2 separate regions of the Homo sapiens genome follow, and region 2 is linked to region 1. Evidence: fine-mapped expression QTL. A gene starts in region 1. The other region holds a variant in brackets. All regions are shown on one strand. Distances are from middle to middle. Region 1 holds the start of NRROS (negative regulator of reactive oxygen species). Region 2 has its middle 19 kb from the start of CEP19.

Region 1 (2,908 bases):
GAGGTGTGTGAGGAGAATAAATACGTATTGTAAATGTAAAGCCCAGCAAACCCTCAGCATCCACAGAACAGTCTGTGTGTCACAGCCGGCAGGTGAGGAGCACACAGGAAAGCATGGAGGGCCACAGACGCTGAATGTTTCTAGCACCCAGACTCCTAACGGGCTGTGCCCATCATGAAGAAGCCTCCGGTGGGGTCCCCTCAGCCCCTAGGGAAGCACAGCAGCCCCGACCAGCCCTGTCCGGAGAGGCTCCATTCCTAGGACCCCCGATCCGGCCTCCTCCAGTCGCAGCCACCAACTGGCACGTGTCCACCTTCTCTCAGAGGCAGCACAAAGCCACACCAGTGGCTCCTTACTTCTTTCCGTCTAGCTCCTGGGTACGTGGGGAAGTACGCTGACCCCTTCAGAAGCCGGCCCACATGCAGGGGCCACGAGGGCTACGGAAGAGCGTCCGAGTCTTCGTCGCCCTCCTGTTAGTCTCCCTCTGATAAGCCATGGATCTAAGTCTAGGCTAAGATCCAAGTCACAGAGCCCCAGTGAATCTCCCAAGGACAAACGTTCTGTGGGAGAAGGGGCTTTGCACATTTTCACAGCTGTATCCCCAGGGCCTTGGACAGGCCTGGCACGTGGACGGCATCTGTGATAGGTGTTGCTGTTAACCAGTCTTAGTGTCTTCATCTATGAGATAGTGGTTCTCAATCCACGTTGTGGGACAGGAAAGGAGAGCCCAGTGCTCAGCATGCTGAGTGTGCACAGAGCGGTCTCATCATATCCAGTCGCCCAGCCCAGGGAGGGAGCATCTCTGTTCCCATTTTGCAGATGAGAAAACTGAGGCTCAGAAACCTTAACTGTCTGCTCACATGCTCCCTGCAGAGCCAGGACTCAAACCCACGTCTGAATCTGAAGCCCTCGTGGTTTCCACTACGTCGCACCACCTTTCTCAGCTCTAAGTGCTCCTGGAGGGAGGTATTTCCACCTCCACCCAGAGCTGCAGCCCCCACGCCCAGCACAAAAGCGGCGGCGCTTGGACGCAGCAAGCCACAGCTTCCTCGTGAGCCCTGAGCTGCGGGCCGCGGACGCTGACCTCCTACCACCCAACCTCGCTCGAGCTCGCCCACCTGGAGAAGGGCCCCGGCTGTGCCCCGGGGACGCCCCCACGCGGGAAATACTCACGGCTCCCGCAGGCGCAGGCGGCTGCGCGGGGCGCATCGTCTCCGGGGGCTCCGGCCTCCTCGAGAGCAGCCGAACGCGGGGCTGGGCTACCTCCTTGCTGTGGGGCATCAGATTATTTTAGCACCAGCGGAAGGAACGGACGGAAACTGAAGTCACATGGAGAGCGGGCTGCTCGGCGACTCAGCACAGGCTCACTCAGACCCGGCCTCTTAGAGGGAAGCGCGGCGCGGGCGCGGGGGTGGGGCGGGCCGGGGGAGCGGGGCCCGAACACCTGCCGGCCTAGCGGCCGAGCAGCGGGGATGTTTAGACGATCTTCCAGCAATGCGACCGAGGCTCCCCCGGCTTTCTTGCGTTGGTGCCTTGGCAGGGCTGGGGGCGGCCAGCTAGGGGCCCCTTGCCTATGAGGTCTGCTGACCCAGAAACTTTGCTACGAGCTTCCAGCCAAGGACCAAGCTGAGGCCGACTTTGGGAACGGCAGCACCGTGGTAAAGAGGCACAGCCTGTCGTCTGGCAGGGTCAGCCGCTCAGCCAGTCTGTCTTCTTATCCACTCAGCCGGTCCTTGTGGATCATCTCCTTTACGGACCCTGTGTTAGAAAGAAGGGGAATTGCTTTGTCGAGGACTGTCAGAGAGTGCCAAGAGCTTCTTGATCTTAGACTGCGCGGATGGGTTTTTTTGTACCTGATGTGTACAAAGTTCCCTGCCAGCTCTTGCCAAGAATTCAAAGGAGTAAGAATAATTGATCATATAGCCATCATTGAAGCAGCGCCAGACACTGTGCTAAGAGCTTCATATGCATTACCCCAGCGCTCCTGTTCTCGAGGAACTACTGTCGTCTAGAGAAGGTGAAATATTTACAGTGCCTGCTGCGTGTGGAGTGACGTGGACCACCATAGTCGGGGGCTCAGACAAGGGGCCTCCAGTTCTGATCTCTCTCACTCCCCTTCAAATCTGAAACGTTGAACTGTCCTGCAGGATTGGGTCACCTCTCTTATAGCCTGTGATTTGGGATTGTGTGTAGCATTGTCCATCCTAAGAGAACAGGAGCCAAGTCCTTTTCACTCCAAACATCTGGCACATTGTCTCTGCTTTCTACAATATTCACTCATGGCCGGGCACAGAGGCTCAGGCTTGTAATCCTAGCATTTTGGCAGACCAAGGCAGGTGGACCGCCTGAGTGCAAGACCAGCCTGGGCAACATACTGAGACTCCATATGTACAAAAAATTTAAAACTTAGCCAGACCTGGTGGCACGCACCTGTAGTCCCAGCTATTTGGGAGGCTGAGGTGGGAGGATCACCTGAGCACAGGGAGGTTGAGGCTGCAGTGAGCCAAGATCACGCCATTGCACTTCAGCCTGTGTGATAGAGTGTGACTCCGTCTTTAAAAAAATAAAAATAATTTTAAAAATAAAATATTATCTCATAATGGTAATAACAATCACACCAATGAAAAAGCTAAATAAAGATCAAATTGTTGCAAACCCAGGTGCTTGATTCAGGCCTCTTTCTCTCTTGTATGCACATTCTCTACTTCATGTCTTTTGTGTCTACCAATCAGTTGGTAACTCCCCAATTTTAATTTCTAGCTCCAACATTCTCTTCCACGAGAGAAGATCCAGACTTGCATTTTTAACTGTCTACTGGTCAATCAACTGCTACATGTCCCAGAGTCACCATAACATGATGTATCCCAAACTCAACTCTCTCTCTTTTTTTTTGAGACAGTCTTGCTCT
Region 2 (2,908 bases), 53 kb before region 1:
GCCATAGTTTGGTATTCAGGAAATGAGGATGTTTATTGCTGCTAAAATTAAAAATTAAAAAACTACTACCATCAGAGGGCAGTATTTGTTTTTTATCAAAAGGTAGCTCTGGCTTGGCACTGGGTATTAGCAATTTTTTCTTTTTCTATTTCTTATCCTTTTTTAAAATTTTATTTTATTTTTATTTATTTATTTATTTTTTGAGATGGTATCTTGCTCTGTTGCCCAGGCTGGAGTGCAGTGGAGCAGTCTCGGCTCACTGCAACCTCCCCCTCCCGGGTTCAAGCGATTCTCCTGCCTCAGCCTCCTGAGTAGTTGGGATTAGAGGAGTGTCAGGCTGGGCTTGAACTCCTGACCACAAGTGAACCGCCCGCCTCGGCCTCCCAGAGTGTTGGGATTACAGGCGTGAGCCACCACGCCTGGCTGCAATTTTTTCTTGTAATTTAAACGTGACTACCTCCACATCTAGAGTGAGCCTTGCTCAGAATTTACACTGTTTTTAAATCATCTTTTAAAAACGCTAGGTTGTCTGTGCCATACATAGACCCATTCTTTAATTATTGATCGAATATGTCTGAAGCACTTCACAGGTGCCAAGCACTGTTCTGGGTAACAGGTATACAGAGAGGAAAAGCCAGGACTTTTCTTTCGTGGAGCTCACATTTCTGTCGGGGAGCAACAGTCAACAAGAAAACGTGTCTTTTTCCAACAAGAAACTATAGGCAAAAAAAAAGAAAAAGAAAAATATCACACGGTCATAAATGCTGTGTAGATAGAGTAGACTGTGTGGGGTTCCTCCTTCACTCAATCCATTCCCTCCCGCAAAACCAAAAAAGGAAGTCAAGGCCGGGCGTGGTGGCTCACGCCTGTAATTCCAGCACTTTGGGAGGCCGAGGCCAGCGGCTCACGAGGTCAGGAGATGGAGACCATCCTGGCTAACACGGTGAAACCCCGTCTCTACTAAAAATACAAAAAATTAACTGGGCATGGTGGAAGTCAAGGAAGAAAAAATATTTCATCCTGATAAAGCCACTGTATCCAAATATCAGGGTCTTACATCCAAGACAACTGCATGAGCAAGCACATTTTATAGCATTATATGCTCAATAAGCTTTATTTTTAAAATCCAGCTTTAACTGTTTTTCATTTTCTTGGTCCATTCCTATGCCTGGCCCCACTTTCTTCAAAAGGTGGATGAGGTGTCACCCTAGGGAGAAGGAACCAGGAGTGAGTTTTTCTTCTGCTCTCGCTCCCGTGGTTCAAGCCTTTCATCCGGTGCTGAGCCTAACTCTTCCCTTAGGACTGCTGGGTGGGGCTTAAATGGCTGTGTGTGTAGAACATCTCCCTGCTCAGTCATCAGCCGAAAAGACCCTCAGAAATCAGGATACATTCATCTTTGTTCCTTTCCCCAGTTTTCTCATTTGTAAAATGGGACGTTAATACCTGTTTCCACTGGGCCAGCGTAAGGAGGAAGTTAGATACCATATGCATAGTACAGCATCTGTCATGGAGTAAGTGTTCAATATGTGAAAGTTTTTTTAAAAAGTCTTTTGCCAGCCGGGCGTGGTGGCTCATGCCTATAATCCCAGCACTATGGGAGGCCGAGGTGGGTGGATCACTAGGTCAGGAGATGGAGACCATCCTGGCCAACATGGTGGAACCCCGTCTCTACTAAAAATACAAAATTAGCCAGGCGTGGTGGTGCACGCCTGCAATCCTGGATACTCGGGAGGCTGAGGCAGGAGAA[T/C]TGCTTGAACCCAGGAGGCGGAGGTTGCAGTGAGCTGAGACTGCACCACTGCACTCCAGCCTGGGCAACAAGAGCAAAACTCCATCTCAAAAAAAAAAAAAGAAAAGGAAAAGATCTGTATTTTATAATATTTTGAGTGACTGGACTAACACCTACAGGACAAGATATTATGGAGACACAAGTAAAGTCCATGACTTGCATTAAGAAATGCCAACTGCAAGAGCACAGGACAGGAAACAGTTAACCTAAAAACAACGTGAAACAGACAGAGGGCATCCAATTGGCAGCAGTCGCAGTATGAACACTCTGTGGACTGGCTGCCCAGAAAGCTAATGTAAGCCTACGCTACATTAATTGAGGGTTAGTGCTCAGATGGGGGAAAGGTCCTGATCAGATCCTGTCTGGAGCCATGTTTTCTTCCAGGAGCCTCATTTTAAAAGATGTTGACAAACTGGAGTGTGTCCCACAGAGAGTGACCATGTCACATGAGAATCCTTTGCAAGAAGTGATGAGATTTTTGCCTGGAAAAGGCAAAAGTTAAAAGATTGCTCTTAAAGCTCTTTAGTTCTTTACAGATCTTTCACGTAGAAGAATATATTACTACTTCTAGAGGGAAAAACTAGGCACAGTGATTGGAAATTTAGGGAGCAGCTCTCACCTCAAGAAAAGACAGAACTTTCTGGCCAGGCGCGGTGGCTCACGCCTGTAATCTCAGCACTTTGGGAGGCCAAGGAGGGTGGATCACTTGAGGTCAGGAGTTCGAGACTAGCCTGGCCAACATGGTGAAACCCCGTCTCTACTAAAAATCCAAAAATTAGCTGGGCGTGGTTGTGTGCACCTGTAATTCCAGTTACTCGGGAGGCTGAGGCAGGAGAATCACTTGAACCCAGGAGACAGAGGTTGCAGCAAGCCCAGATCACGCCATTGCACACTCTAGCCTGGGGGAAAAGCATAAAACTCCGCCTCAGAAAAAAAAAAAAAAAGAAGAAGAAGAAAAAAGAAAAGACAGAACTCTCTGAAGATCAAAACCGCCAGCAACGGGAAGGGTGACTTTGTGAAGCAGTGACCCCGCTGTCCCTACAGCAGCCCAGCAAGGCACCAGAGAGGTTAACCATTGGCGTTTTTCAAGCTGCCTTCTGTGGAGCAGCATCCTGGGGAGCT

What was found. PIP is the estimated chance that this variant, and not a neighbour inherited with it, causes the effect.
Region 2: its variant is the best candidate, but not a certain one, in a credible set for the expression of NRROS in whole blood (TOPMed, PIP 0.65).

What each region holds. Positions count from the first base shown.
Region 1 is chr3:196,638,141-196,641,048 of GRCh38, reverse strand. NRROS (negative regulator of reactive oxygen species) reads right to left here and starts at 1,355. Exons shown (of 3, transcript NM_198565.3): 1 at 1,174-1,355. RefSeq lists an enhancer at 599-718 and silencers at 1,169-1,268, 1,289-1,718.
Region 2 is chr3:196,691,450-196,694,357 of GRCh38, reverse strand. No RefSeq gene overlaps it. Among named protein-coding and RNA genes, the nearest start is that of CEP19, 19 kb to the left of the region's middle. The variant T/C (reference allele first, on the strand shown) is at 1,748.